Linked DNA regions of Homo sapiens. The protein of the gene in region 1 purifies or fractionates together with the protein of each later gene. This does not show direct contact. Each region holds a gene or a part of one and is shown in the gene's direction. Other genes may lie near its edges. The genes, in order: PCDHB7, CLCN3, TMEM131L, AGPAT2, ADGRG1, CLSTN3 and PTPRU.

What was found.
Region 2: the proteins of PCDHB7 (region 1) and CLCN3 purify together in Homo sapiens (affinity purification with mass spectrometry; one large-scale study listed by BioGRID and IntAct). This does not show direct contact.
Region 3: the proteins of PCDHB7 (region 1) and TMEM131L purify together in Homo sapiens (affinity purification with mass spectrometry; one large-scale study listed by BioGRID and IntAct). This does not show direct contact.
Region 4: the proteins of PCDHB7 (region 1) and AGPAT2 purify together in Homo sapiens (affinity purification with mass spectrometry; one large-scale study listed by BioGRID and IntAct). This does not show direct contact.
Region 5: the proteins of PCDHB7 (region 1) and ADGRG1 purify together in Homo sapiens (affinity purification with mass spectrometry; one large-scale study listed by BioGRID and IntAct). This does not show direct contact.
Region 6: the proteins of PCDHB7 (region 1) and CLSTN3 purify together in Homo sapiens (affinity purification with mass spectrometry; one large-scale study listed by BioGRID and IntAct). This does not show direct contact.
Region 7: the proteins of PCDHB7 (region 1) and PTPRU purify together in Homo sapiens (affinity purification with mass spectrometry; one large-scale study listed by BioGRID and IntAct). This does not show direct contact.

What each region holds. Positions count from the first base shown.
Region 1 is NC_000005.10:141,170,637-141,175,709, forward strand, and holds the start of PCDHB7 (protocadherin beta-7 precursor), read left to right. Parts: upstream 1-2,007; 5' UTR 2,008-2,199; coding exon 2,200-4,581; 3' UTR 4,582-5,073. UniProt on the Homo sapiens protein: Potential calcium-dependent cell-adhesion protein. May be involved in the establishment and maintenance of specific neuronal connections in the brain.
Region 2 is NC_000004.12:169,689,606-169,694,141, forward strand, and holds part of CLCN3 (H(+)/Cl(-) exchange transporter 3), read left to right. Parts: intron 1-924; coding exon 925-1,047; intron 1,048-2,508; coding exon 2,509-2,715; intron 2,716-4,536.
Region 3 is NC_000004.12:153,633,267-153,637,728, forward strand, and holds the end of TMEM131L (transmembrane protein 131-like isoform 1 precursor), read left to right. Parts: intron 1-925; coding exon 926-1,014; intron 1,015-2,165; coding exon 2,166-2,305; intron 2,306-3,034; coding exon 3,035-3,310; 3' UTR 3,311-3,445; downstream 3,446-4,462.
Region 4 is NC_000009.12:136,677,367-136,681,902, reverse strand, and holds part of AGPAT2 (1-acyl-sn-glycerol-3-phosphate acyltransferase beta), read left to right. Parts: intron 1-4,346; coding exon 4,347-4,480; intron 4,481-4,536. UniProt on the Homo sapiens protein: Converts 1-acyl-sn-glycerol-3-phosphate (lysophosphatidic acid or LPA) into 1,2-diacyl-sn-glycerol-3-phosphate (phosphatidic acid or PA) by incorporating an acyl moiety at the sn-2 position of the glycerol backbone.
Region 5 is NC_000016.10:57,659,605-57,663,859, forward strand, and holds part of ADGRG1 (adhesion G-protein coupled receptor G1 isoform b precursor), read left to right. Parts: coding exon 1-77; intron 78-1,163; coding exon 1,164-1,272; intron 1,273-2,092; coding exon 2,093-2,361; intron 2,362-3,847; coding exon 3,848-3,978; 3' UTR 3,979-4,255. UniProt on the Homo sapiens protein: Adhesion G-protein coupled receptor (aGPCR) for steroid hormone 17alpha-hydroxypregnenolone (17-OH), which is involved in cell adhesion and cell-cell interactions.
Region 6 is NC_000012.12:7,153,797-7,157,369, forward strand, and holds part of CLSTN3 (calsyntenin-3 precursor), read left to right. Parts: intron 1-3,573. UniProt on the Homo sapiens protein: Postsynaptic adhesion molecule that binds to presynaptic neurexins to mediate both excitatory and inhibitory synapse formation.
Region 7 is NC_000001.11:29,242,420-29,246,955, forward strand, and holds part of PTPRU (receptor-type tyrosine-protein phosphatase U isoform 1 precursor), read left to right. Parts: intron 1-4,536.

The sequences.
Region 1 (5,073 bases):
TAAACTGAAAAAGGGCAAGTTATAAAATCCCAGAAATAGCAAACACATCCAGAATAAAAGGCAAAGAATTCCAAGAATGACAGCAAAGAAAAAAATCCAGAATGATAGCTGTGCAGTAGGCACAGAAAGCAACCACCCAATTTAAAGAAAAATTGAAGTCTCAGGAGGAATGGAAATGACTATGGGGAAAATTGCACTGACAGGCAATTGTATCTGTGGGATGAATAAGTGATAGGGATAAAAAAAATCAAGTAAATGAAAAGGCAAGATAATTATTAAAATCACAAAAAAATTGAAAAAGAAAACATAATTAATACACAATAATGTTCCCAATATATGGTAAGTAAAAGAAAATCTAAAATACCTAAAATGTAATCTAACATAATAAACAGTCAATTGATAATTTCTAAAATTAATTAATCAAAATATATCAGAAAACAGATTAGTGACTGAAGAGATAACTAAAAGAGTTTTAAAATGGCTACCTCTTAGAAGGGGAACTAAGAAAAGTGAGGAGGAAAAGGGCAGAACAAGCCTCTTAGTGCTATTTAATTTTGGACCAAGGTCATATATTATTTTGAAAAAAATGCATTTCAAAATATCAGTAAAGTAGAGCTCTTGCAAGTCTCACCAAGAATAAAAAGGAGTTAAAATGCTAAACATCACTAATAAAAATAGGGATACAATTAAAGGTAAATAACGCAATGAAAACAATTCCAAGAAATTTGCAAACTAGATAAAATGATTTTCAAAATAAAATGCAAGTTACTTAAAAATACAAAACCTGAACAGATTAATAACCAAAGGTAAAATGTAAATGGTAGTCACTGATCTACTGCAAGTGAAGTCACCAAACCCAACCAGTTTAAAAGACAAGCTGGAATTAAGCATGTAGAAACATATAATAATATAATTATTAAAACTATTGTATAAAATAGATAAAAAGCTCCCTAACACATTCTATGATGCCAGTATAATAGTTTAATACCAAGGCCATAAAAGGCAAACACGCACTAGGTAAACAACATTAACTAGAAAAATCCTAAAACCATGTTGACACATCATATCTATCTGTGCACTAAAACAATAATACATTATGGTTAAATGTCATTTATATCAATAACTCAGTAATTTAGAAACTAAAGAATAAATGTATTATTTCAACAGCTATCAAAAATCACTTCAAAATATGAAAGAATAAAAAGAAAACTTTATTGATTCAAAAAAGGAATATTTACCCCAAATTGAGATCAACCATCATAGTTGAAGATGAAATGCTAGAAGCACTTCCACAAATGCAAGATTGACCAACTTGCTACTACTAATTTTAAGAGTATTCATTGGACATTGGAGATTCTAGTCACTGAAATTATAGAGGAACAATAATTTCTTATGTAATACTTAAATCAGGTGAAGGATGAAGGTTGGGTTTGGGGGAGGCATAAAGTGTTCCAAGAAATATCACAGGTAAAGAGTTAAGACCTGGAAAGTGGAATAATTGTTTAATTCACAAGAAATTGGGAAAAGGGTCAATTATTCTGCCATATTCACATTATTATTGTTAAATACTTTACAAATAAATAAAATGTCCCCAACCAATATTTGTTGACTTCAAGGAGGAGGTTTCATTTTCTCATATATATTTTTACTATCCATTTTTAAAATAGGAGATTTTCTTAGGATTTCGGTGGGGAGTCAGAGTTTAGTTTCATGCTCCTAGATTTAAGAAGACTATAAATTAATTCTTCTACGAATCCAGATTATCACAGGGGAAAACGACATCAGCTATTACTTACTAGCATTACTGTGACCATTTGAGGATAAAGATGGAATGAAACAGCAAAGATACCGGGGACAAATCATTCTTGTTGCAGAATTCCTTCAATCCGCCATCTTTTTGTTCTAGTCTTGATAACGGGAATAACATCCACAAAACGCAAGGTGGCGCTGCTGGCTAAAAAGAGAGAGAGAAAAATAATTTCACAAAGAAAGGATGTTACAGATTCCAGAGCAAAGAGGCAATCTGAAGAGAAAAGCATAGGAAAGGAAACAGTGGTAATAGGAATTGGGGTAAAATGAGGATCCTTCCCCACAAACATTGCTATTATTCAGCTCATTTCAAAGGATTCCGCTGCTGCCATTTGTGAGAGCCGCTGGAGGCTGAGTGAAAGTCATTTTGAAAGACTGATCCAAAGAAGAATGGAGGCCAGAGTGGAGCGTGCTGTGCAGAAAAGGCAAGTCTTATTTCTTTGTGTATTTCTGGGAATGTCTTGGGCTGGCGCCGAACCGCTTCGGTATTTTGTGGCGGAGGAAACCGAGAGAGGCACCTTTCTTACCAACTTGGCAAAAGACCTAGGGTTAGGGGTAGGGGAACTGAGAGCCCGGGGAACTAGAATTGTTTCAGACCAGAACATGCAAATTTTACTGCTCAGTTCGCTTACTGGTGATCTACTTCTAAATGAGAAATTGGACCGAGAGGAACTGTGTGGCCCCAGAGAGCCCTGTGTGCTGCCTTTCCAGTTGTTATTGGAAAAACCTTTTCAGATTTTCCGTGCTGAACTATGGGTCAGAGACATCAATGATCACGCTCCAGTATTTCTAGACAGAGAGATTTCCTTGAAAATATTAGAAAGTACCACTCCAGGGGCGGCATTTCTCCTAGAGAGTGCACAGGATTCAGATGTTGGAACCAACAGCCTGAGTAACTACACCATCAGCCCCAATGCCTATTTCCATATTAATGTCCATGATAGCGGGGAGGGGAATATCTATCCCGAATTGGTGCTGAATCAAGTGCTGGATCGGGAAGAGATACCAGAGTTCAGTTTAACCCTCACCGCTTTAGACGGCGGCTCTCCTCCAAGATCAGGGACCGCCCTCGTGCGCATTCTGGTTCTAGACGTAAATGACAACGCCCCTGATTTTGTGCGGTCGCTCTACAAGGTGCAGGTGCCCGAAAATAGCCCCGTTGGTTCCATGGTTGTCTCCGTGTCAGCCAGAGATTTAGATACCGGAAGTAATGGGGAAATAGCCTATGCATTTTCTTACGCCACTGAAAGAATTCTCAAAACGTTTCAAATCAATCCAACATCTGGCAGTCTTCATCTTAAAGCGCAATTGGACTATGAGGCAATTCAAACTTACACATTAACTATTCAGGCCAAAGACGGCGGCGGGCTTTCTGGAAAATGCACTGTAGTGGTTGATGTAACAGATATAAACGATAATCGACCCGAGCTGCTCCTGTCTTCACTTACTAGCCCAATTGCAGAAAACTCACCCGAGACAGTCGTGGCTGTTTTTAGGATTAGAGACAGAGATTCCGGGAACAATGGAAAGACAGTGTGCTCCATCCAGGACGATGTCCCCTTCATCCTGAAGCCATCTGTCGAAAACTTCTATACTCTGGTAACAGAGAAACCTTTGGATCGAGAGAGGAACACTGAGTACAACATCACCATCACCGTCACCGACTTGGGGACACCCAGGCTGAAAACCGAGCACAACATAACCGTGCTGGTCTCCGACGTCAATGACAACGCTCCCGCCTTCACCCAAACCTCCTACACCCTGTTTGTCCGTGAGAACAACAGCCCCGCCCTGCCCATCGGCAGTGTCAGCGCCACAGACAGAGACTCGGGCACCAACGCCCAGGTCATCTACTCCCTGCTGCCGTCCCAGGACCCGCACCTGCCCCTCGCCTCCCTGGTCTCCATCAACGCGGACAACGGCCACCTGTTTGCCCTCAGGTCCCTGGACTACGAGGCCCTGCAGGCGTTCGAGTTCCGCGTGGGCGCCACAGACCGCGGCTCCCCCGCGCTGAGCAGCGAGGCGCTGGTGCGCGTGCTGGTGCTGGACGCCAACGACAACTCGCCCTTCGTGCTGTACCCGCTGCAGAACAGCTCCGCGCCCTGCACCGAGCCGTTGCCCCGGGCGGCCGAGCCGGGCTACCTGGTGACCAAGGTGGTGGCGGTGGACGGCGACTCGGGCCAGAACGCCTGGCTGTCGTACCAGCTGCTCAAGGCCACGGAGCCCGGGCTATTCGGCGTGTGGGCGCACAATGGCGAGGTGCGTACCGCCAGGCTGCTGAGCGAGCGCGACGCAGCCAAGCAGAGGCTGGTGGTGCTGGTCAAGGACAATGGCGAGCCTCCGCGCTCGGCCACCGCCACGCTGCACGTGCTCCTGGTGGACGGCTTCTCCCAGCCCTACCTGCGGCTCCCGGAGGCGGCCCCGGACCAGGCCAACTCGCTCACCGTCTACCTGGTGGTGGCGTTGGCCTCGGTGTCTTCGCTCTTCCTCCTCTCGGTGCTCCTGTTCGTGGCGGTGCGGCTGTGCAGGAGGAGCAGGGCGGCCCCGGTGGGTCGCTGCTCGGTGCCTGAGGGCCCCTTTCCACGACATCTGGTGGACTTGAGCGGCACCGGGACCCTATCCCAGAGCTACCAGTATGAGGTGTGCCTGACTGGAGGCTCCGGGACAAATGAGTTCAAGTTTCTGAAACCAATTATCCCCAACCTGCTACCCCAGAGCACAGGCAGGGAAGTGGAAGAAAATCGCCCATTTCAGAATAATTTGGGTTTCTGATAAAGAATGTAAACTAAATCCGCGTCTGTGAATACGTTTCTGATTAGGAACTTATTGCGAGGTTCCCTTAAGGGAGTGTCTTTACATCATTTCAAATATGTACTCTTGAAGTCAAGCAATAAATTTCTATACATAAAATAGGATCCTGATTTAGTATCAAGAACCCTTCACAAAGCATGAAATGTATATGTGTAATGTTTTATGTCAAACAATTATGCTTAATATACAGTCTATTAAATGTAAGTCTTGTTTGAGATATTTTAAATTGCTTTCCATTGTTTTCAATCTCTACTGAGACTTCCTGAGTTGATTAGAAAGCTGTATGAGTGTACCTACCCTAGTCTCAGAAGCATAGACTGTAGAGTATCTTTTTAAGCATTTTTAAAAAATGCTTTTAATGCATCATACACTATTTTAACACTTTTAATCTGAGAAGAAGCATATGAGGCATGGTATTTTAGGAATGAACAAATAGATGGTCTTAGAGATTCA
Region 2 (4,536 bases), on another chromosome or scaffold:
ACCTACGTAGAGATACATTGAAGATAATCAGACATTTTTATTTGTGGCATTACGGCATTTAAATGATTGATTTACTATGATCTACAAAGAACATTTTAGAACTTAGGATGTTACATGTATATTTTTTACATGATGACATGGATATATTTTTTAAATTTTGTTTTAGCTGAACTTTAGAGCTAAAAGGTATACATTTGCGGTAAGATGAGTAGTATGCTGTTTCTCACCTGGCTTAATTGAATTGAGTTTAATGATCTGGAAAGTTGCAGCAGAATGAAATCTGAGTGGTGATGCAATTTGTTTCCACTGTTTCCAAAAAGTGGTTTGTAGGCAGAGATTGAAGTATAGCTGAGATGTGTTGGTAACAAGACTTTAGGGATTAGGAAAAAGATTAAATGTGCTCAGGGTTCCTTGGTATATGTAGGCATTAATTTTTGGACTCTACTTAAATATTTTGTTCATATAAAGTTTTTATTATTGTGGAAATAAACCAGGAGACTTTTACACATTTTACTGAAGTTTCTTTTCTTTCTTTTTTTTTTTTTTTTTTTGGCCGGTGGGATGGAGTCTCACTCTGTTGCCCAGGCTGGAGCGCAGTGGCACGATCTCGGCTCCCTGCAACCTCCGCTTCTGGGGTTTAAGCGATTCTTCTACCTCAGCCTCCCGAGTAGCTGGTATTACAGGCGTGCGCCACCATGCCCAGCTAATTTTTGTATTTTTAATAGCAACGGGGTTTCACCACATTGGCCAAGCTAGTCTCGAACTCCTGACCTCAGGTGATCCACCCGCCTCAACCTCCCCAGTGCTGGGATTACAGGCGTGAGCCACCATGCCTGGCCGTTTACTGAAGTTTCTTATGACAAGCATTTGCATTAGAGGTGCAATGTAAATTAAATTCATACTCTCGAACTATTTTCTTTTTAGGGTCCTGGTTCTTATATCATGAACTACATAATGTACATCTTCTGGGCCTTGAGTTTTGCCTTTCTTGCAGTTTCCCTGGTAAAGGTATTTGCTCCATATGCCTGTGGCTCTGGAATTCCAGAGGTAAGCCAAGTAATATTTAGTGTCATTAAACATTATTATGATGCTTATCTTTTTGACCTTAGTGATAATAAAAGTTGGCTTTTCTGGAGGGAGGGGATAGTTTGTTCATAATATGAAAAAAAAATTTTTTTAAGTATAAGCTGATGGTAGACATCATTGAAAAATATTGTTCCCCATAGTCATTTGGTCATTTACTGTGAAGGCTGATTTTTTTTTTCTCTCACCACTAATTTAACACATGACTAGGCAAATTTTCAGACTATTTAGTTAAACATCAAGAGCCTGGAAGAAGTATCTTGTGACCTAATGTTCTTTGACGGGTTAGTTGTTACTTTGCTGTTATGACCCTGAATTTTTTTTTTTTGAGACTGAGTCTTGTGCTGTCGCCCAGACTGGAGTGCAGTGGCGCAATCTCAGCTCACTGCAACCTCTGCGTCCCAGGCTCAAGCAATTCTTGTGTCTCAGCCTCCTGAGGAGTTGCGATTGCAGGCACCTGTCACCATGCCCTGCTAATTTTTGCATTTTTTTGTTTGTTTTTTTTTTTTAGTAGAGATGGGGTTTCACCATGTTGGCCAGGCTGGTCTCAAACTCCTAACCTCAAGTGATCACCCGCCTCAGCCTCCCAAAGTGCTGGGATTACAGGTGTGAGCCACCACACGTGGCTATGACCCTGATTTTGATTCATTCACTTTTTATAATTACCTTTTGATTAGATAAGTTAATTATTCTTGAATTTGGCCATTTTATGCTTTGAGAAAGTAGTTAATCACAGTGGGTCAACAGTACAAACTTTTGGGTTTTATTTTTCATCACAATAAAGTAGAGTTATACATAGGATTGATTGAACTTGATTTGAACTTATCTCTTCTCTTTTATTTTTCTGTAGTTAAATAAGTTACCAACTTTTTCCTAATACATTTCTTTTTAAAATGGAATTGTATTGATCTTTAAGTTTGTATTAAGAATATCTTTCATAAAAAGCAATATCATGCAGTATATAACAGTTGTTACTCATTCTTGATACATAAAAAACTATTGCACATAATTACAGTACTCAGAGAAAACATAATATTCTTATTTCTAACATAATGTCCAAAATATATTTAAAATATTATGCTTATTTTTACAACAGAAATATTCAAATTTGCCCTTTTTTTGGTTATGTAATTATAATCCTTATAATTAAGGTCTGTATTCATTTTAACATGGCCTGATATTTTGATTTTGTTCCTGAGATAGTGTTGCCCTCTCTCCTTTCTTGGGTAGAGAATTAGATTATAATATCAATTTATTATATGTAGCATAATAGGCAAAGTTTTCGAAAAATTAACTGTAAATTTTTCTGTAGACTGCTAAAATTTGCAAGGTTGTTTTTGTGCATAAAACAAGAAAATAACTTGGATTCGTTACATTCTCATGTTTCTTAAAGGACATTAAGCTGCCTTAATCTTTGCCTTGTAGATTAAAACTATTTTAAGTGGATTCATCATCAGAGGTTACTTGGGAAAATGGACTTTAATGATTAAAACCATCACATTAGTCCTGGCTGTGGCATCAGGTTTGAGTTTAGGAAAAGAAGGTCCCCTGGTACATGTTGCCTGTTGCTGCGGAAATATCTTTTCCTACCTCTTTCCAAAGTATAGCACAAACGAAGCTAAAAAAAGGGAGGTAAGTGTCTTTTGTAGTTAATTTGACTGAAAAATATATATTATATAGTATTTATTTAAGTAAAGAATTTCTTAGTGTAAAAATAATAAATTCTGTATTCAGATAAAAAATTTTGAGATTTGTGCTTCTGTTTTTCCTGAATAATCTATAACATCTTTCTAGAATCCATTCCCAGTGCTGCTCAGTTCGTCTTACATTTTAGAGAAGCTTTAGATAGACAGCTGGTGTCCATTGGGTTTCAGCTGCATTTCACGAAGATCTTCCTGTTATCACTTTACCTTACATCTTTCCTCTTCTGAAGTGTTTTCTAAGCTTAGCTTTGTTTTTCACTCTTACTTTCAACATTAAGAGGTTGGGAAATCTTAATAGCTATGTTTTCCTCCTGGAGGCAGTGTCTGGTGCCAGTGTAAGTGGTGTGTGATATGAAAAATGCTATCCAGTGCTATGGGGAAGTTCTGAGGGCCTTTAGAAGCTCTTGAAGTTTAAATCAGAAATTCACATTAAAGAGATTACAGGAAATCCTTTTCATTTGATTGTTTAAGGCAATTTCCTTTACCATTTCTTTAGGCCAGCCTGAGATCTTCTACAAGACCTTGAAACCTTATATATATTATGGATTTCCTCTGATGTTTCCATATTGCTCTGGGCATTTTCCTGAATCCTTTATATTAGCTCTAGACTTTGGGAGCCCAGTCCCTTCCTATTTTCCAAATCTAAATCTACAGCCCTAGATGGTACAGAGATCTTTGAGTTTTTAAGATATGATTTTTTGAAAAACATCTCATTAAATACTGGCAGAACCTTTTCATCTTGTTGAGTTTTTTAATGTACTGTAACCAAAAAAGTAGAATATTTTATCAAACTGTTTAATCTTCAATTGAAATAATTCTAGTACATTTTAATGTTCGCATTAAAATATTGTCCTTGCATTGGACGTAGATATCCCAAAAGTGGAATACTTCAGATTGTCGTAGTTTCATCTCTGAATAATTGTGATTCCAGTACTTTATAACAAAAATAGCTAGCATTATTGATTACTTTCTGTGTATCTGGTACTGTGGCAGATACTTTACTTGGATTTTAATACTTAATTTCACAGTAATTTAGTAATATGGCCCTGTTATCCTCATTTAGTGATTAGTAAACTAGGGCTGAAAACAGCTAACTAACTTGCCCGAGACTACATACCTAGTAAGTGGTGGAACGTAGGTTAAAATTCATTTTTCTTTGACTTCAAAGTCTGTGGTCTTACCTACTTACATTACTGCCCTTACGACTATGTGGGTATATATTTGTGTGTGTTCAAAACAAACTCAAAACCATCCTGTAGCGTAGCAAGTTAGTGGCTAAGATGAAGCTAGAGCATTTGCCTCCTCAATTCAATTCCATTACTTTCTGTTGTACCTTTATATTTTTTGGTAAGACTTTTACTTATTCTAAGTTCAAAAAATGTAATTTATTAGATGTTTGAGAAATTAAGTTTACCTAAATTTTAATGTTCATACTGTAGTGATTAGTTAATGTTTAATACGTTGTTATTCTGTCACCTTAGTGTATATATAAATGGCAAGAATTCACGGTTAGTTGAAAGCATTAAGGTCCCATAGTTTTGTGTAGACAAGAGGGGAGAGCGTTGATATTTTTAAATTAAATGCTTCTTAGATACGTATGAAATGGATTAAAACATGTATATGAGTTATAGATACCTAGGTGTTAGTTTGGTTGTAAATTCAGGATCAGGACATTCAAATAAATATGTTTGCTTTCCTCTTAGTGGAGGAAAAAAAAAAGAAGCTAAATTTGCTCCCTTTCCTCCCCAAA
Region 3 (4,462 bases), on another chromosome or scaffold:
AGCGCAGTGGTGCAATTATAGCTCACTGCAGCCTTGAACTCCTGGGTTCAAGCGGTTCTCCTGCCTCAGCCTCTCAAGTAACTGGGACTACAGGTGTGTGCCACCATGCTGGTCTAATTTTTAATTTTTTTTTTTTTTTTTTTGTAGAGACAGGATCTTGCTTTGTTGCCTAGGCTGCTCTTGAACTCTTGGTCTCAAGCTATCCTCCTGCCTTGACCTCCCGAAGTGTTGGTATTATAGGCATGAGCCAATACACCTGGCCCAAATTTAAAGTTTTAAAAGATCAAATAATTTGAATATTGAAAAATAGTTACACAATGGCAGTTTCTCAAATTTGCTATTTGACATTAATATGTCATTCTATTAGGGAGTCTTAAGAAAATGTTAGATATTTAATCACAGAATCCATTTGATGGTTTTCTTGGTTCAGCTTATTACAACAGTATTTCCTATCTCATTTCTATAATAAGAATCTAGGTTGCAATAGGGATCAAAGTATAATGAAGTATAGTCTTTATAGTTATGCTTGTCTAAGATGAATGCTGGTCTTGCTCTGAGTGGACGTTTTTAATGGAACATGTTTAAGTCCTTCAGATGTGCACAAAGACACTTAAAGGTATTCCAGCTGTTCTTTCACAGTGCTGATAAAGCCACGGCTCTCTATTCTGTCTCTAGTTAGACTTAACAAGCATAGTTAAAAACAAGTGTGCTCCTAGTCCAGCCGTCCATCCTGCAGATGGCATGTCACTAGTGATCAGCATTTAGTAAGCCTTTGATTCTGTGACTTGAGAAAGTACATCTTTTATTTTCCAAAATTGGGGAATTCACAGTGATTAGGATGCTAGGCAGTAAAATCATTTTCCATTTTCTTTACTTGATGTCTTGACATCCTGTTTCTGATTAGACCACTTGTTTTTTGTGGCAGTTTCATTGATTGGAGTGCAACATGCGAAGGCCAGTTTTCCAGCGCATACTGTCCATTGGAATTGAACGATTACAATGCCTTTCCAGAAGGTAAGGGCTCTTCAGACAATCCCAACGCCATTATTTTATTCTTAGAAGGTCAAAGCAGGAAGTGTGTGGACTAAGAAGAATCCTTTTAACAGCGAGCAGACTTTGAGAATGAGCTTGCAGTAGACTGCCGAATGGCTTCATGTGGATCCAGTTGTGCACTGATGCCATATATAATTTTATATGACCCTCAAAAAGCCCTCAATTTTGGGTGTCTGGGGGCTTCAAAAATAACCCTAATCCATTTAGTCCTTCCAGTTAGGTAGAACTAGGTCATTTGGATCCATGTAGATGTAACATTGTTGGGTATCCATTGGGAAGCCGGGGCTTTAGCTGCTCGCTCTTCTTTTTAGGCAGTCAAGTCCCATGTGAAATAGAAACATTGGCCTGCTTCCTATTATGTCCTTAACTTCTCTGCCCTTGGGTGGTGCTGCAGAAGGAAGGAAAGAAGCTTGGAGGGGAAATTGTGGAAAATTGCAGATGCTTGGGCTCAAGCATCTGTAATAATAAAAAAATGAGAGCTATGGGATATCCCTGGTCAACTGGAAAATGCTCTATTGTGCACTACTGTTGGATCATGGTTTCTTATACTAGAGCTGCCCTTTCAGGGAAGGGATGTATCATTCTTATCTAGATTTTGATACATGCATTGCTCCATGCTAACCACAAGGGGGTGCTTTGGGAATGTTATGATTGTGAGGGTCTGTGTTCATTATGTTCTTAATGGTATCTAAGGAGTCCTTGGTTTTGGATTGCTGTATCAGCCCAGATGATATATGTGTAGGTCGCTGAGGTTGGCATGACAGGTAATAAAAACATTTTAAAGACTGGCAAGAACCTTGACACTATTTAGATATCTAGTAGTATTTTAATGTATTTTGTGTAATAGAAAGATTCCCATCAAGTGATCAAATAGAGAAAAACAAGCCAGGAGGAAGACCTTCCACATTGAGGGCTTCCCAGGTTGTGTGTCTGATAAAAAGTTTTAATCTTGAGAATGATGTTGCAACGACTCTCCTGGTCCACACGGACCAAGTATTTATGTCTGTAACTTGTCAGTATAGTGAGACCTTGAAAGCTTTTTTGCCTGAGAGTGAGAATTCAGTTCTCAATGAAAATGTTTACCTATGATGATATTCTCCCATTCTTTGTAGAAAACATGAACTATGCCAATGGCTTCCCCTGTCCTGCAGATGTTCAGACAGACTTTATTGATCACAACTCTCAGTCTACCTGGAACACCCCACCCAACATGCCTGCTGCCTGGGGACATGCCAGTTTCATCAGCTCTCCGGTCAGTGTTGCCCATCCTGTGCCGTGAACCCCTGGGCAGCTCTGAATTGTTTCCACTGCTTCCTTAATCCTGGTCTCAGCTAGCTTTAGCGTTGGGTTTGGACCAGCCAAAGCCTGGCTTGCTTCTTTTAGATCACAGAAGCCAGGGCTGGCCACCCTCTGAAGGAAACTGACATGTAATAATTAGATGGGTGGGGTCTTGCAGACATTGACATTCTGGCCACCCCAAATGAAAAACATCCCCAAACACACCAAGCAATGGTCCTTTGTAGATAAAATTGAACATGGGCCAGCCCTCTGTGTGACACAGCTGTCTTTATGTGGACTCACTGATCTTTACTTCACCGATACGAGATGAAAGTCCCAGGAAGGTCAGTGGGTGGTCAGGGTCCCAGAGCTCCCTGCCTGTGAGCACACCCTCCCTGCTCAGAAGCCCGATGGCTTCTCCTTTCACATCCGCTTGACACTTGTTTTTGTTTTTTTCCAGATAAAGGGTATTTGGCCTGTGGGTTCTTCCCCGGGTTGCAAATAAGTTCATCCCATTAGATGAGGATTTCACAATCCTCCCTTTGAGAAAAAATGGAGTTAAAGCAACCCAGATTTAAATTGAGAGTAGTCTAATAACTTCCAAGTAACTTGATAGCATTGTAGTATTCGCTGATGTGTATTCACCTTTCTAAGGCTTTTTTTTTTCTTTTAACTTATTTTTCCTTCCTCATTTATACTTCAGCCCTACCTCACAAGCACCCGAAGCTTGTCTCCAATGTCTGGACTTTTTGGTTCCATCTGGGCCCCGCAAAGCGATGTGTATGAAAATTGCTGCCCCATCAACCCCACCACGGAACATTCGACCCACATGGAAAACCAAGCGGTCGTGTGCAAGGAATACTACCCGGGGTTCAACCCGTTTCGCGCCTATATGAACCTGGACATATGGACTACCACAGCGAATAGGAATGCAAATTTCCCACTGTCTAGAGACTCGAGTTACTGTGGGAATGTGTGAAAATAATTGGATTTTTAAACAATGTGAATAAAGAGGCTTGTGTTTTGATTACTAGTGTAAACTGGTTATTGAGATAGATTATGACATTGGTGGATATTTTGGCACTTTTATATGAAAATAAATTTTTTAATGAAATCTGGGTGCTCTGTTTTTTTTAACTCTTCATAAATCAGTGGTAAAAACAAAGCATCCATATGTCAGAACTTTCAAAAGTCAAGAAGTGTGTCAGGCATGCCGAATGTTTTAAATCTGAACACGGGAGACGTCTTTTTTTTTTTTTTTTTTTTTTTTTTGAGACAGAGTCTCGCTCTGTCGCCCAGGCTAGAGTGCAGTGGTGCGATCTTGGCTCACTGCAACCTCTGCCTCCTGGGTTCAAGCAATTCTCCTGCCTCAGCCTCCTGAGTAGCTGGGATTACAGGCGCACGTGTGCCACCACGTCCAGTTAATAGAGATTTTCAGTAGAGACGAGGTTTCACCCTGTTGGTCAGGCTGGTCTCGAACTCCTGAACAAGGGAGACTTCTAAGAAGGTAGGAGTTGAGCAAGAAATGGCTGCTATGGTTTTCCTCCTCCTGAGCATCACAACCATCTGGGGAGCTTTCAAAAAATGAAGTTGCTCAGCCGTTGAGAACTGCTGGAAAGCCCAGCTTAACAAGTTGTTTGCTTGGGTGGACTCTGCTTGGGGGTGCAGCGGGGGGTTCTTTCCAGTCCTGGTGTGTTGCTGGGATGAAGCAGAGAGCCCTAGAACTGTTCTCTCCATCCCACTTACGGCAAGGGCTGTTCCTCTGTCAGGCCAGTCCTTGGGGGCAATGACAGCAGCAGGAACATTCTGGTAAGTGTGTGGTTTCCCTCCCAGTGAGCAGGCTAACCCTGAGTATAGGAACTTAGGGGAGGTTAGGTGGCTGATGCATGTTTTCCAGACCGGTTTGTATCTGCTTGTCATTGATCTTAGAAGTTCATATTATGGTGGAATTATCTATTTGCATGTGTAAACTTTGAATATGTTTTTAACTTTTAATAAAAAGTTATTTTTACATTTTGTTTTGTCTTTATATTAGAAATTCAGTAGGCGTGATTTGTGAGTGGAATGCAGGGTTTGCTTGCTTTGAATTTATTTCTCTTTGCTGTGGTTGTGTGGAGGCCTGAGACAAGTG
Region 4 (4,536 bases), on another chromosome or scaffold:
TTTCTCTGCTTGGGTTCCCGGGGGTGTCCTCGGCCGCAGGAGCCTCTGCAGGGCTTAGTTCAGTCCCTTCCTCTCTGAGGAAACACTTTTTTTGTGTGTGTGAGATGAAGTCTTGCTCTGTCACCCAGGCTGGAGTACAATGGCACCATCTCGGCTCAACGCAACCTCCTCCTCCCTGGTTCGGGTGATTCTCCCGCCTCAGCCTCCCGAGTAGCTGGGATTACAGGCAGCTGCCACCACGTCTGGCTGATTTTTGTATTGTTAATAGAGACGGGATTTCACCATGGTGGCCAGGCTGGTCTTGAACTCCTGACCTCAGGTGATCTGCCCGCCTTGGCCTCCCAAAGTCCTGGGATTACAGGCGTGAGCCACCCGCCCATCCAGGAACCGCTTGTAAAGTGAGTCTAGACTTTCCCACCAGCTTTCAGAAAGCTCTGAACTATGTACGGGACACCGCGGGGGAAGTGCGGTGGCCTCACGTGGCTGGTGCAGATGGCCCTTTGTCCCCTTGAGGACATCAACTTCAACTTTCTTCCACCCCCAGGGTATACCTTTCTCCCCCAGCCACACTGTGGGCTGCAGAGTTCTAGAGAGCCACAGCCTCCCGCTGGCCTGGGGCAGCCTCCGTCCGTCCATCTGTCTGGCCTGAGGACCAGGGGCCGGTGGTGGGCGGCGGGACACAGCGCCTGCTCAGCACCGCCTGCTGGGCGGGGGTTTGTACCCCGTGTCTTTCACAGCTGAGAGAAGTATCAGTGCACGATCCAACCCCTAAGCAGCTTAGATTAAAAAAAAAAAAAAAAGGAAAAGTTTTGGAGCTAGAGGGTGGTGCTGGCCACACGGCAGTGAATGCGCCGAGTGCCACGGAACCGTGTGCTGAGAAATGGGTACAATTATATTGTTTAGGTGGTGCGTGTTATACCACAATCAAAACAGAGGAGGGCTCGGCGCGCTGGCTCCTTCCTGTCATCCCAGCACTTTGGGAGGCCGAGGCGGGCGGATCATGAGGTCAGGAGTTTGAGACCAGCCTGGCCGACATGGTGAAACCCCGTCTCTACTAAAAATACAAAAATTAGCCGGGTGTGGTGGCGCACACCAGTAGTCCCAACTACTTGCTAGGCTGAGGCAGGAGAATCGCTTGCCGGGAGGTGGAAATGGCAGTGAGCTGAGATCTCGCCACTGCACTCCAGCCTAGGTGACAGCAAGACTCCGTCTCAAAAAAAATAAAAAATAAATGAAGATCTTATTTTTTAATAATTTCAGATTTACAGAGAAGTTGCAAAGATATTACGGGGGACCCCATGTGGCCCTCACCAGTTTCCTCCCTTGTTAACATCTTACATCACCAAGATGCAGTTGTTAACACTAAGAAACTAGCTGGCCGGGCGCGGTGGCTCACACCTGTAATCCCAGCACTTTGGGAGGCCGAGGTGGGAGGATCACCTGAGGTCAGGAGTTCGAGACCAGCCTGGCCAACATGGTGAAACCCCGTCTCTACTAAAAATACAAAAACTAGCCAGGCCTGGTGGCAGGCACCTGTAATCCCAGCTACTCAGGAGGCTGAGGCAGGAGAATTGCTTGAACCCGGGAGGCAGAGGTTGCAGTGAGCTGAGATCACACCACTGCACTCCAGTCTGGGTGACAGAGTGAGACCCTGTCTCAAAAATAAAAAAGTAAATAAAAGATGGAACTGGCCAATGTCACTACCAGAGGGAACCAATGTCCCTTTCAGATGTGGCCCGAGCCTCCTGCAGGCAGCTAGCTTTGGAATTGCAGGTGTGTCTTGGCTGCTGCTAGAAATCATACACATGTCCTTCACAGGAGATGAGTGTGGACCTGTCCTGTTCTTTCCCCGCGCCCCAGCTGTCTGTGAAATGGACCCTAATTTACTTTCCCTCTTTCTACTGGTGGCTATTTAAGCATTTTCAGGTTTTCCTAATTCACTGCACACTTCAGCACCACAGGCTTCTCACTCCAGCCGTCGGGCGAATTCCTGGAAGATTCTGAGAGGGGAGGGGCCAGGTTTCCTCAGGGCTCTGGCCGGGCCTGCCAACCTGCCCTCCACAGAAGTATCTTGTCTGTGCGACTCCTCACTCCTGCCAGCCGCTGGGCCTGTTCCCAACACCCTGGCTGGCACCTCCTGTTATCAGGCGTTTTAATCTGTGCCAGGGGGAAGGATGAGGACAGTCTCTTGTTTCCATTTGCGCTTCTTTGATTGGCGACACGGCCGTCTTGCTAGCACCAGACAGTTCTGTGTTTCCTGTTGGTGAACTGCCGGCTTTTGCCTCCTCGTCTTCTTGGAGCGTCACAGGGGTCCGGGAAGCTGGATTGCGCAAATGAGTGTGGAGGCAAAACAGCCCTGCAGTTCCCCTGAGTGTGCGGGTGCTACCAGCCCGGGTGTGCCTTCTGGGTGGGAGGGGACGGTGGCCGGCGCGGCCTGGAGAGGAGATATCTAGAGTTGGCTGAGGAAGGCAGATCTGAGGAGGCCCCAGGCTTCCAAGTCCAGGGACGGACGGCTGGACTCATCACCAGAATTAACCATTAGGCCCCCCTTGACTCAGTTTCCCCATCTGCAACAGGGGGTCATGAGCATTGCCCCATCAGCCTGAGGTGGTGCTGCCGCAGGCCTGGGCTCACACATGGAAGGGCAGAGTGCCAGGGCTGGGGAGGGGACAGGGGTTTGTGTCGCATGGGAACAGACGTCAGCCAGAGAAGGTGGAGAGTTCTGGAGATAGAGGGAGGAGATGGCTGCTAGACACCGAATGTGCCCAGCGCCCATGAACTGTGCACCCGGAAAAGGCCAAGGAGATACATTTTATGTTACGTGTATTTTACCACAATTTTTTTTTAAAGGCCGGGCGAGTTGGCTCAGGCCTGTAAGCCCAGCACTTTGGGAGGCCGAGGTCGGCAGGTTGTTTGAGCCTAGGAGTTCGAGACCAGCCTGGCCAGAGATGGTGAAAGCCCATCTGTACCAAAAATACAAAAACTAGCGAGGTGTGGTGGCTCACGTCTGTGGTCCCAGCTAGTCAGGAGCCTGAGGTGGGAGGAGCCCAGGAGGTGGAGGCTGGAGTGAGCCCAGATTGTGACACTGCACAATGTGACACATTGTGTCACAGAGCAAGACAGAGCAAGGGGAGCCTGGGTGACAGAGCAAGACCCTGTTAAAACAACAAAAATCCCCACCAGTATGGCTTTGAGAGAAGGCCCCGGCTTTGAATCTCTGCTCTGTGGCCTGGGGCAGTTACTCAGACTCATCTGTAGAAAGTGTGGGGCCCTTAGGACTGCTGGGGGATCAAATGGTGGGGGGCACTAGTCTGCATGGAGAGGGGAGCAGCACTGGCAGCCCCCCAGTCAGCGCTGGCACAGCCTTGCCCCGGCCATCCACCCCTGCTGGAGCTTCGGAGTGGAGCTCCGTCCTCCTGGCTCCATCCCCGCCGGCTGCCCTGTGATGGGGTGCCCTATCTGGGGTGTGCCCAGAGCTTCCTGGCAGCACAGCAGGGCAGAGGTTGGGACGCTCGGAGCTGGTCAGAGTCTTCGGGTACCCCTTGGACATCCCTGGTCCCAACCATGACGGGCTGCTTGGACAAGGCCACCTCACATTTGCAGGTGCTCCAAGGGCAGCCCCCAGTGGGCTGGGCCCCTGCCAGAGTGGGGGCTGCTGTGGCCAGGGCTCAGGTGGCCCAGACCCTGGCTCTGCTGCTGCTCCTGGTGTGACCTCAGACAAGCCCCGAGCCCCTCGCCGCCTCTTCACGGGGAAAGGGAACCGGCCTGATTCTGTAGGGTAGGGGTGAGAGAGGGTCTCGGTCTCGGCTCTTTTCTGGAAGAACCTTTCGGAGGTCGTTTCAGAGGTCTCCACTGGCGCCGACACTTTCTTCCTGATGTGGCCCTGCCTTGAGGGGCCAGTGACCTTCCCCAGGGTGTGTGGGGCCCCATTTCCTCTGCTGGGGTGCAGAGGCTGCTCTCCCCGACGTGGGTCCTTCATAGCGGACGTGAGAGCCAGTGCCAGTTCCTTTCCGGCTGGGTCCCCTGTGGGGTGGATGAGGGCTGGGTGGGCCCTGGATGTGGATTTGGAAGTGGGCGCCTTCCCATGCTCCTAGCATCCGAGTTCCAGAGGCTCTGGGTTTTCCTCTGTTGCTGGGGAGACGGAGGCAGGGCAGCCGTCCAGGTGGGTGAGCCGGGCCCGGGACTCTGTCCGCTTCAGGGGCTCCCTCCCCTGTGTCTCCCGGTCTCCTGCCCCGTGCCAGGAGGGCCCCTCCCCAGCCTCCTCCACACCCCACCCCCAGGCCTTCGCGCCCCAGCCTCGGCTGCGGGATCTGTGGGACCCGTGTTCATGGTGGCCTCCCCTGCAGCATCATCGGCTGGTTCGTGCGAAGCTTCAAGTACTTTTACGGGCTCCGCTTCGAGGTGCGGGACCCGCGCAGGCTGCAGGAGGCCCGTCCCTGTGTCATCGTCTCCAACCACCAGAGCATCCTGGACATGATGGGTAGGCCGGGCCTCGGGGGTGGCTTCTGGGGTTTGAGTGGGGCCGGCTGAGCTGGG
Region 5 (4,255 bases), on another chromosome or scaffold:
CCTCTACCGACTCGTGGTGGAGGTCTTTGGCACCTATGTCCCTGGCTACCTACTCAAGCTGAGCGCCATGGGCTGGGGTAAGTGGTTGGGCGGGGGGTGCCTCAGACCTGCCTCTCCCACTTGGCTCTGGCAAAACCCAGGCACCTGGTTCTGCCTCTCCACCTATCTCTCTGACTTCCCTCCTGGCCTCCTTCACTCATCCTCAGGTGTCCTTCACCTTGGCTGAATCAAGGTCCCCTTTAGGAAGAAGCAGTGAGCCCTGTCCCCAAGAAACACTTCCAAATTCTCCACATCACTCACTCCATTGCAAAGGGGATTTACGAGCAGGGCCACCGTGTGTGAATGTGCAGGTTGTGCACTGCTCAAAGGCACCCAGTTCAGAGATCAGAGGGGCTGAAATCCAGTCCCGCTCCAGTCATTTAATTCACTCGGGCTGGCAGTGGCCCTGCCTCAGGATCCCCCTGGACCTTGGGTAACAGATTCCCTGTGGCTTGGCATTTTGTTCTTGGCCAATGACTGTTCAATTCACCTGTGGCCAGCCCTCTTATGTCAGACCTACAGCCCAGGGGCTCATGATGCCACAAGTCTGTTTGGACATTGCACAGACCCCTCAACCTCCGCATGCCCCTGACTCCAGCTTGCTGCTCTTCGCGGGTTTGTCATTGGGCCCCTTCTTTGTCCATTCCCCCATTTGCATGAAATTCCTTTGGAGGTGTCTCTGTGTCAGGACTTTGTGTTTGGAGGTGGGCAGCCCCCTCTAGGGAGCTTCTAATCTCCACCGAACGGGCGAGGTCAAGGCCCAGTGCAGACGTCCCCTGATGGCAGAACTCTTGCCGTCCCTCCTAAACTGTCTGCCCCTCCCATCTCCCCTGTGACATCCAGCCCTGCAGCAGAGACCCACAGGCCTTTCTCCCAGGGGCCCCCAGGGTGACGAAGGGCAGGGCTAAGGTTGGAGGAGATGGCATCCCCTTATAGGAAACCCATACTGGAATGGGGAGGGGGAGGGTCCAAACTTGGGGGAACTTCCCCACCAGATGGGGCTGGGTGGGCTTCAGGAGCCCAAACTTCAGAGGGGCCCTTGCCCTCCAGACTCCCTGAGGCCAGCAGGGAATGGGCAGGCCTCAGAGAGCGGGAAGTAGAGCAACATGCATTGCCACCCTCAGGCTTCCCCATCTTTCTGGTGACGCTGGTGGCCCTGGTGGATGTGGACAACTATGGCCCCATCATCTTGGCTGTGCATAGGACTCCAGAGGGCGTCATCTACCCTTCCATGTGAGTGGCTGTGTGCAATGGGGGCAAGAAGGTGGGTCTCTGGGCACAGAGGCCAGAGTGCAGCCCGGGCCCAGGTCATGCTGGCCAGGGGACACCTGGGTTCCAGTCTCCTCGAGGAATTGGCCTGGCAGTGGCTGAAGCACTGGTCTAAGAGTCATGGAGGGTGAGAAAAGGCCTGGATCTACCACTCACTCACCAGGTGACCTTGCACAGGCCCCGGCCCTTCTCTGAGCCTCGGTTTCCTCATGCATGAATGGGGGTATGGGTTGGAGCAGATGAGCCTCACCACATTCCTCAGCAGCACCTCTCTGTCTCCCCATGCAGATGGGAAGACAGAGGCTCAGGGAGGGAAGAGATCCGCTCTTGGCCACACTGAGGGCTGGTGTGCTGTTCGGAGGCAGAGGATGAGTGGGGTTGAAGTCCAGTCCTTCTCCACTCACCTGATTCACCCAGGCTGGCAGCGGCCCTGCCTGTGGATCCCCTGAACCCAAACCGGAAGCCAGGGTTCCTGAGCTCCAGCCTGGGAAGGAATCCTTCCCATTGGCTCAGTGGTTTTGAAATTTTCAGCTCTTTATGTTGTGACCCAGTGATTTCTGCCTCACTTTTGTACTATCTATATTATTACTTACTTAACATTTTCCTTTAAACAATCTGACTTGTTAACTCAAATGTATTTTTAAAATTACATCAACACTGTAAATAGAAAACAAGCGCACTTGCTGTAAACAGTGGATAATCCTGAAAACAAACATGACAACCACAGCCCAGGAAATGCTGCCCGTGCTGGCCACACGCTGAGCCCTCCTGCCTTTGCCCGCAGGTGCTGGATCCGGGACTCCCTGGTCAGCTACATCACCAACCTGGGCCTCTTCAGCCTGGTGTTTCTGTTCAACATGGCCATGCTAGCCACCATGGTGGTGCAGATCCTGCGGCTGCGCCCCCACACCCAAAAGTGGTCACATGTGCTGACACTGCTGGGCCTCAGCCTGGTCCTTGGCCTGCCCTGGGCCTTGATCTTCTTCTCCTTTGCTTCTGGCACCTTCCAGCTTGTCGTCCTCTACCTTTTCAGCATCATCACCTCCTTCCAAGGTAAGGAGAAGACCCGTCCCTTGGCCCAGGCAGGGTGTCTACACATGGAGCAAGGGCAGGGAAGAGATCACCCAGGGAACCTGAAGACTTCCCTTCTCTGGGCCTCAGTCATCCCATTCATAAAATGGGGACATCCAGGCCACAGTCAACAAGTCTTGATTGAGCACCTACTATGTGCAGGCCCTGTGTTAAGCCACAGGGCTTATGGCTGAGCTGGTTGGGTGTGGGCCTTGTTCTTTTGGAACTCAGCTCTACTGGGGAAGACTGCGCATGAGCAGGCAAGCATATAGCCATCAAAGGTGGTCCCAGATAGTAGGGACATCGTCGTGAGCACGTGCTGCACAGGGCCTCGGCTGGGGTGGGGGACACCCTAAGAAGGGTGGCCAGGGAGGCCTCTCTGGATATGAGACGTGTGAAGACAAGAGAAGGATCCCCCCATGGAGAGATGGGGGGGCCTCCCTACTCCAGGCGCGGTCCACAGACCAGCAGCAGCAGCGTTGTTAGGAGCTTTTTGGAAACGCAGCCTCTGGGCCACCCGGGCCCTGCCACATCAGAATCTGCATTTTCACAAATGCCCAAGGGGTCACGTGCACATGATAGGATCAGGAGCCCTGGTCTAGGGGAAGGAAGCTCCAGGCAGAGGGAGAGGCAAGAACAAAGATCCTGAGGTTGGAACCGGTTGTGTGTAGGAAGGACAGTGAGGGAGAGCGTGGCCAGATGGCGGCGGGTCGGGGCGGAGAGGTGGGATCCCAGGGCAGGGTCATGATGGCTCTGGCTTGATGCCAACAGGGTCCCTTTCTGTGCATGTACCTGTGTGTGTACATTGAGGTGCACACACAGGCATGCACACCCCTCTGTTCCTGGCCGTGCAGAATGGAAGGGGGTTGTATGGCCAGGCCCAGGGGCTCTCATGGGGTTCAAGGCCAGCCTCCCATACAGGGTCACCCTAGAATGGGAGCTGGGAGTTGGTGGTGGGGAGATGTTACCACATTTCGGTTATTTAACATTCAAGCCTTCATTCCTGCCTGTGAGATGAGGGGACTCAGGATTGTAAGTGAGGCCCATACATTCACACAGACATTTACTAAGCTGTGGATACATCATAGTGCTATTAATTTGAGGGGTGCAAAATCTCACAGTGCTTAAGTGGGTGGACTTCAGAGCCTGTTCACCACAGTTTGAGCCCTGGCTCAGCCACGTCCCTTTACCTGAGCCTCCTGGGCCTCAGTTTCCTTGTTTACAAAAGAGAATAGTAATGAATAGGATGGGCCTAGGAAGTTTGTGACAGTGAGAGGCCACACGGGGACGCAGCACAGTGCCCGGCTCATAGGAGGTGCTCGCTGGGTCTCATGGGTGCCCGACAGCACGTGCTTGGCAAACACTATGGAGAGGTGGGGCAGACCCGAGTCACAATGGCTGGGGAGGGAGGAGGAGGGATGGGGTGGGGCTCCCCCACCTGCTGACCCCGTGCCCTCACTGCCCGCAGGCTTCCTCATCTTCATCTGGTACTGGTCCATGCGGCTGCAGGCCCGGGGTGGCCCCTCCCCTCTGAAGAGCAACTCAGACAGCGCCAGGCTCCCCATCAGCTCGGGCAGCACCTCGTCCAGCCGCATCTAGGCCTCCAGCCCACCTGCCCATGTGATGAAGCAGAGATTCGGCCTCGTCGCACACTGCCTGTGGCCCCCGAGCCCGGCCCAGCCCCAGGCCAGTCAGCCGCAGACTTTGGAAAGCCCAACGACCATGGAGAGATGGGCCGTTGCCATGGTGGACGGACTCCCGGGCTGGGCTTTTGAATTGGCCTTGGGGACTACTCGGCTCTCACTCAGCTCCCACGGGACTCAGAAGTGCGCCGCCATGCTGCCTAGGGTACTGTCCCCACATCTGTCCCAACCCA
Region 6 (3,573 bases), on another chromosome or scaffold:
CTTTGGTATAAGGCCCCAGGTGAGAGACTTCTTGTTCTAGGAGCCCAGCACCTTCTCCCCTGAGTGTCCAGCTGCCCTGCATGGGCTGGTCTGGCGGGCAGCGTTTCTCACCCCTCAGCCCCTGGAGGAGTGTCTGTTCACGGCACCCTTTCACCTCCCCTCGGTGAAGCCCAGTCTCCCCATCCTTTGTTCTGAGCTCATGTCCAGGCTGATCAAGCTTCCCTCAGATTTCAGTTGAGAGCAGCAGTTTTCCTTTGCTTCTTCTCTTATTTTGACCTGAATAGGACACAGAGTTCGTAGCTTCCCTGAGGGCACTGGTGATTGGCATGCCTGAGCTGACAGGCCATTCACGGCATAAAACCCTTTCCATATGCCTTTTCTGACTCCGCAAGGTGCTCCCTCCCTTTCACCTACAAATCTCGAGTGGTGTTGCAGAACTGTGGTTTCACAATATCAAACCATTCTAAACATGCAGAAGCAGTGAGAGGTACGATCTCCTCCAGTGGCACGGAGGCCCATTGCTCTAAATCTCCTAAGTGCACTAGAGAAAGAGAGATGAATGTGAACTGGAACCAGGGTAAACTGGAACAGTCAGGGGAGATTTTGTGGCACATGTAGAGTTTGCATTTGGACCTGAACTGTAAAAGGGATTTTTGGATGGGTGTGAGAGAGAATGGGAATTTGAGAACCGGGGGTAGATAGGTGGTTAAGAGTGTTTATGGTTAGAGAGAATAAGGTTGGTTGAGAAGAGCAAGCCGGATGATGAGGGTATTATGTATCTACTCATATCAAATTTTGATGACTGCCAGAATCACCTGGGGAGCTTTAAAAACTCTCGGCACCTAAATTATACCCTAGAATGTCTAGGGGGTGGGAGCCACGTGTCAGTGGTTTTTAAAAATCCCATGTAATCTTTAAAAGTTTGGGAATAATTTTCCTCTTTTGTTTCCTACAAGTATCTGAAGCTTTGCAGAAAGAGTTACAAAGCAATAGGACAAAAAGAAAATGAATGAGGAAGTAAGGAGGAACAGGTAATGATGAAATAAGGATCCAATGAAGCCAGGGAATAAAGTCAGCTCATAACATGCGTACTATGAGATGCTATGCAGTTGCTACCACGGGCCAGAATTTTGACCCTGAGCTTCTTCAAAGCTAAAGCAAAAGGAAACCTGAGCAGTTCTGAGAGCCGTGATAGGAGCCAAACGCTATTTCATGAAAAGCCCTGGGAGTGCGGGGGGCAGAAAGAAATCTCTCCCAAGGCTCTTTGCAAAGAGAGCACCGTGTGGGGCCATGGACAGGGCTTTCCACTGTCCTCGCAATCCCATGGACCATTTGCTAAGTCACCCCTTAATGTTGGCTCTGGAGGTCATTCAAGGCCAGAATTAACTGCTCAGATCTCATGTAGCAAGAAAAGCTGAACGCACTTCTTAAATTCTTGATTTTTATCTGTAGCTGATTTAAAAATCCTCCCATCTCCCCGGGCTCCTGACTCATCTTAAACTAATTAACCAGACTTGTTTGCTTGTAGATAGAGTGTCTGCATTTTGTCTTTCCTGTGGTCATTTCTTATTGTCCTGGCAATCAACTTGTCATTTCCTTCATTAGGCCAGGAGCTCGGAGGGACACTGCATTGATTAGGGCGCAAACCAGCTTTAGCTCGTCATCGTTGTGTGCTTAGAGGAAGTTCACCTGCTTTGGCCTCCACTCTGAGGGTGGGGTCACCACCCCTTCTGGAGCCTGGGCTTAGCCACTGGGCCCATCTGCCAGTGAAGGCACTGCCCCTGGCTCTGGTCTGTTGACGTGGAGACCTGAGAGACACTATTTCCTGCAGATGGGCAGGAGAGACAGCTCTGTCCCCTCCTCCCTTATCCCCCGTTCCCAGGAAGTTGAGAAATACTGATCCAGCCAGTCCTGTCTTCACCTTGGAACCAGTGTCGAGGGAGTGTGCCCCAGCAGAGTCCGTTCTAATTGGCTGGTGGCCTCAAGTGGGCTGTGGGTCAGGATGGGGACCAACTTGGCAGACAGCCATCAGGGTGGCCTCAGGGAGGTGTGTGGCCTGCCCAGGCAGGGCATTCTCCACACACCTAGTTGGCCCTGGAGTGCGTGGCAGCTGAGTGTGCTGGCTGCTGGGGAGAGGGGCGCTGCAGCAGGGTGTGGGTGTGAGTGTGAGGAGCTCCTGGGCCATGCGCTTCCCTACGCTCTGCTCTGTCTGTTGACACATGAGTCTCAGGCTGTAGGTAATTTGCGGACGGGGCTGGAATGCGATGTGTGTATTTTTCTAGGGGCTTGCTTGTGTGACTGCTGGTCTCTGTGTGTGTTTGGGGCACACATACATGGAATAGTCCCTCAGCAACGGGACCGCCCAGGGAGGAGCTGCTGTGTATGCATGGTGGGCAGGGGTGTGCACCCATGTGGGGAGTAGTGACCCAGCTGCCCGTAAGGGCCCTGGGCCTGGAGGTGCGTGTGTGGGGTCTCTGCCTCCACCTGCTGTCCCTGGGGCTGCGGGCTTTCCTGCTTTTCTTCCTTGTGCTTCTTCGAGAGCTGTGTGTGTGTGTGCAGGAGGCAGGCAGGGCTGTGCTCATGGCGGCTCGCTCTGTGGCCCTCACGGCCCACGTCTGTAGTGTCTATGTCTTCCTTCAGGGGGTTGCCTGGTCTGCCCAGCTGGTGGGGAGCTGGGTGATGCTGCACATATGGCTCTACCGTGCCTTGCTGGAGACCCCCAGACGCGTTCCTTTACTCCCGCAGTGTGAGCAGGCGGCCAGGTGGCTGGTGTGGGCCAGCATGCAGGCTGGCAAAGGCCTGGCTCGGGTGTGGGGCGTGGCAACCTTTGTGCAGCTGTGTGCCCACACGGTCTTCCTGAGCATGTACCTGTGCATGCACATCTGCTTTGCCGCCATCAGCTCTAAGGTCCGTGTGAGAGTGAACGCACCGTTCTGTGTCTCAGTGCCCTTGAAGGTCCATGCCCCTCTGAGCCTGGGCATCAAAGTGGGGCTGCAGGGCCAGAAGCATGGGAGAGCCACGGGGGAGGCAGGTATGCCTCAGGGGGAGATGTTGGGGAAGCAGGAACCCCAGACGTCCCGGAGCCCCAAGCCCACCAGGAGAAGGGAGGTGTCACGGAGTGAGCTCAGTCCAGGTGGGTAAGGGAAGGGGCTGCTCTGTGCCCCTTGGACTTGTCCCCAGCCTCAGGTGCTAGTGCCCTCTTCCTGCAGCCAGCCCAGGCCTGGAGCCTGCATCTCCTCCTGCTCAGCCAAGCCCGTGTGGGGGCCCCTCCTCTCCCTCACTGGGCACTGGCACCTCTTTCCTAGGCTGAGTGGTCTCTGGGGAAGGCACAGGTGGAATGACAGGGGCAGATTCCAGTCCTTGCCCTCTGTCCTCTGCGAATAGGGCTGTTCATGACAGTGTTGGGCAGGGAGTCTTTTTCCTCCTCTGCCCTTGCCTCTCTGTACACCTGCCTCCCTCTGTGTTTGTTCCTTTGCCTTGCAGCAGCTCCCTTCCTCCCCTTTCGTCTCCTGCCCTTCCTGGTGGGCTGTTTCTCTTCTGGCTTCTCCAGGTGTTCCTCTCTTCTCGGCCACC
Region 7 (4,536 bases), on another chromosome or scaffold:
AACGGTCAGCCTAGAGCTGTGTTATCTAATAGAACCTTCTGTGGTGATGGAAATTGTCCTCTACCTGCATTCTCCAATACGGTGGCTCCTGAGTCATGTATGGGTATTACATTTAAATTAATTAAAATAAAAATTCAATCCCTCAGTTGCACTAGTCAGATTTCAAGTCCTCAAGAGTCATATGTTGCTAGTGGCTCTCATTGTACTGGTTAATGCAGGCAGAGAACATTTCCATCCTCTCAGAAAGTTCTGCAGACAGCACTGGTCTAGAGGCATGAGGCGGCCTGCAGCACCTTCAGTGAGTCCTGGGCATCTCTGGGAGGGGAATTGGTCTGGATGGACCATGACTCAGTGGCTCTTGACAAAAGGTTTTGTTCAATCCAGGCCCCTTCTCTGCAGCCTTATTAGATCTTGCCTGGACTATTGCAGTAGCCTGGTAGCCTTCTTGGCCTCTACTCTGCCTGCCATCACGCTCTCGGTTTCTTTTTTTTTTTTTGAGATGGAGTCTCACTCTGTCACCCAGGCTGGAGTGCAGGGGCACCATCTTGGCTCACTGCAACCTCTGCCTCCTGGGTTCAAGCAATTCTTCAGCCTCAGCCTCCCAAGTAGCTGGGACTACAGGCGCGTGCCACCACGCTCGGCTAATTTTTTGTATTTTTAATAAAGACGGGGTTTCACTGTGTTAGCCAGGATGGTCTCCATCTCCTGACCTCATGACCTGCCTGACTCGGCCTCCCAAAGTACTGGGATTAGAGGCATGAGCCCCCGGGCCCGGCCCAGGCTTTTGGTTTCTAATGCTTCCACCACCCTGTGGCTGGAATAAGCTTCTAAGGCAGACATAGGATGCTGCCACTCCTTTGTCCCAAGCTGAAGGCTCCCCAGAACTCAGGGGACAAAACCCAAACCCTAGCATAGCACATGAGGCCCTGCATGACCAGCCCTTTCTTTCTGAAGCAGCTTCACATGATGCCTTTCTTCCCTGATCCCACTCCTGCCTATCCGCTGTCTGCTCCAAATCACCAGGCAAATTGCTGATCCAGGAGCCTGCCATGCCAGTTCACACCTCTCTACCTTTGCACACACTGTGCCCCTCCCTACTTCTCACCTCGTGGTGGGGGTGGGGGATCTACCTACTTGTTCAGCCTTCACAGTTCAGCTCCATTGTCACTGATGCAGCGAAGCCTTCCCAGCCCTCTCCCGGTGCAGTTGGTGAAATTTCTCCCATAGTGGACGTCTGACAATGTGCTGCGGTTTTCCATCTCCTTTTTCCACTAGGCTGGGAGCCCCCAGGGGCTGAGCTGTGTCTTTGTCATCTGTGGTCCCCAGGGCCTATACGTGGGAGATGCCCACTAAGTGGCTGCATCTCGATGCCTCTGGGTGCACAGGGAAGGCTTGGAGGGGTGAATGCAGGAGCTGGGGTTCTGCAGCACAGTCATGGGTGGGCTGGCTATGCCTCCTCCTCTGGCTCTGGGTTGGGGGCTGCCATTTCCTGCAGAATGACTGTGGGAGGACCCCTGAGGGGGACAGCTCAGAAGATGCTGCTTCCAGATGACGCAGGAGGTCTTGGGCAGATTCCCAAGATGCAAACCACAAGACCTTGTGATGACTCAGAAGGGACAAGGAGAAAGGGGGCTTGGAGGGCCGCTGAGGCTTGGGAGTTTGAGGGCAGAAGCTGGGGAGAAAGATTGAGATGGGGCTGTTAGGAAGGGGAGATGCTGAGGATATTTGACAGGGCAAGATTAAAGCTAGGGGTGGGGTGACAGCTCAGCCCCCGGGGGCTCCCAGACTAGTGGAAAAAGGAGACGGAAAACCGCAGCACACTGTCAGATGTCCACTGTGGTGGGTGACAGCTGAGGCCTGGGGGACCACTGGCGGATAGAAGATAGCTGGTGGGAAAGATATACCTGGGGGATGGGACAGCTGACAGTGAAGGGACAGGCGGTATTGGGGGAACAACTGAGGGTTGGGGGACAGGTGGATGATAGAACAAGGAGATGTGGGTGATAAGATAAGAGGTGGAGATAAGAGGTGACAACTGGGAGCTATCAGAAACCTAGTGGATAGGACAGGTGAGTCTCAGCTGAGAGTGGGAAATACATTGCTTAGAATGTGTATGTATGTGTGTTTACAGGAGCGTGCATGTGGACTTGTGGCTGGGCATGCCTGTCAATATGTGTTTGTCTAGCGTGTGGTGGTTAAGAGCATGGGTTCAGGGCCCAGACCATCTGGGTTCTAATCCTAAGCCCACCACTTCTAGCTGTGTGATACTTTGGTAAGTTACTGACCTCTCTGGGCCCTTAGAGTTCTCATTTGTGGAATGGGGATAATAATAGGACACACTGCATGCGTTTGTCATGAGGATATGTTTTATGGTTATGATTATGTAGGTTAGAACAGGTCCTGCACATAGTAAGCACTGTGTAAGTGATCACTGTTATGATGTGTGTATTTGCATGCGTGCGGTCATCCTGTGTGCCCAGAAAAGTTTGTTCTTGGTTTCTGATGAAGTCCAGGCCTGGGAGGGAGTAATAGTGGTGGGGACGGGGGTGGTGGTTGGGGAGTGCCTAGCCAGGTTGATTGAGTCTGGCTCTTCTCTGACATCCTAACCTCTTGTTCATCCTACTTCCTGCTCACCCTGTCCCAGGGCCTTATCCAATAATAGGTCTTTCTCTCTATCTCTCCTCTGTCCTGCCCTGGGCTGGGGGCCAGGGGCTGTACTTTAATTGTCTGAGAGCTTTACCAGCAGAATTTGAATTCATTGTTTTCCTGCCAGCATGCTGGGATTCTGCTCAGTTATAATACCTGGACAATGTGCTCGATTCTAGATGGCCTATCCTGTGGGTGGCAGTGGCTTCAGCCTTTGCCCTTGGAGAGTCACTGGGGTGGAAGATGTTGGAGGGAGGGAGACAAGCCAGATGAGATTTCGGCCCCCAACTTGTGGGGTGAGCCAGCGTGGCCGGGCAGAGCTGTAGGTAGAGAGTTTTCCAGGGATCTGAGCTCCCCTCTCCTCCAGTGCATCACAGGGAGGCATCATGACCCTCCCAGCAACACTGTTGCAGCGTGCCAGGCTCTGGACTGCTCTGGATGTGCACTGTCTGGGATTCCTGGGTCCAGCCTCCTTGCACAGCCCTGTGTCTCAGCCCTCTACTTCACTGGGATTGCTGCATTGCATTGAGGGTGTGCGTTCTCCTGAGTTTCTGCATGCTCTGCCTCTGCATTGTCCCATTGGACCGTGCCTCCATCCTGCCATGATCCTGCCATGGTCCTGCCATGTGTGTGTCTTTGCTGCTCTCTTGTATACTGTGTCACTCTGCTGGATGTCAGTGTTGCATTGGGAAGGTGAATTCTCCTGGGTTTCTGGGCGGAGCTGCTCACACTGCACCACTGTCTGAGATCAACACATGGTTTTCTGTGGCCACATTGCATGTTTGTGTCATAGAGCATTTATATTCTGCACCCCATTGCCTCACCAGGCAGTCTACATTGCATTGGGCACATGGACTCTTTTGGGGTTTGGGCATAGCTCCTCGCATTGCAGCACTGCACCGTGCCAACAGATGGCATGCTACCACAACATTGCATCTTGGCATCACACAGCATCTCTGTACTGCACTGCACTATTGCATGGACGTCAGTATTGCATCAGGACTGTGAACTTTTCCTGAGTTTCTGGGCATGGCCCCTCTGCATTCCACAGTTGCATTGTACCAACAGTGCACTTTGCCCCATATAGCACTTCTGTGCATGTGCACTGCTTTGCTGCACTGGATATGTGCCTCATGGCCCAGCCCTTGCACTGCACCACTGCTGCTGAAACGCTGCCCCTATGGTGTCCTGGCCTTTCACGCTCCTACCACCATGGTATCTGTAGGCTGGCGTCCTTTTCCAGGTTTTTGTTGTCAGCCCTACGTGAACAACATCTTTGCATTGAGTGTCCTCACTGCCCCACGTTGCACATGACTCAGGGAGTCTATATCTATAGTACAGCTTGGGACCACTTTCTTGGGCTTCAGGACTGGCTTAGGTTTGCAAAGGCAGCACCACTGCACAGTATCTGACATTGCATTCGTGCACTGCACAGGATTACTGCCCAGGGCCTCTACCCTGCAACGAACCTGTTCACTGTTGGGTTGTGTGCACTCTACCGGATTGCGGGACCCAGAGCCCTTGCGTTGAATCCACTGGTTCCACACAGCATCTATTTTTTTTTTTTTAAGATGGAATCTCACTCTGTTGGCCAGGCTGGAGTGCAATGGAGCGGTCTGGGCTCACTGCCACCTCCGCCCCCTGGGTTCAAGTGATTCTCCTGCCTCCGCCTCCTGAGTAGCTGGGATTACAGGCATGTGCCACCAAACCCAGCTAATTTTTGTATTTTTACTGGAGACGAGGTTTCACCATGTTGGCCAGGCTGGTCTCAAACCTCTGACCTCAAATGATCCACCTGCCTCGGCCTCTCAAAGTGCTGGGATTACGGGCATGAGCTACTGCGCCCAGCTCCACACAGCATCTTAATTGTACTCCATTTTGTGCCACTTC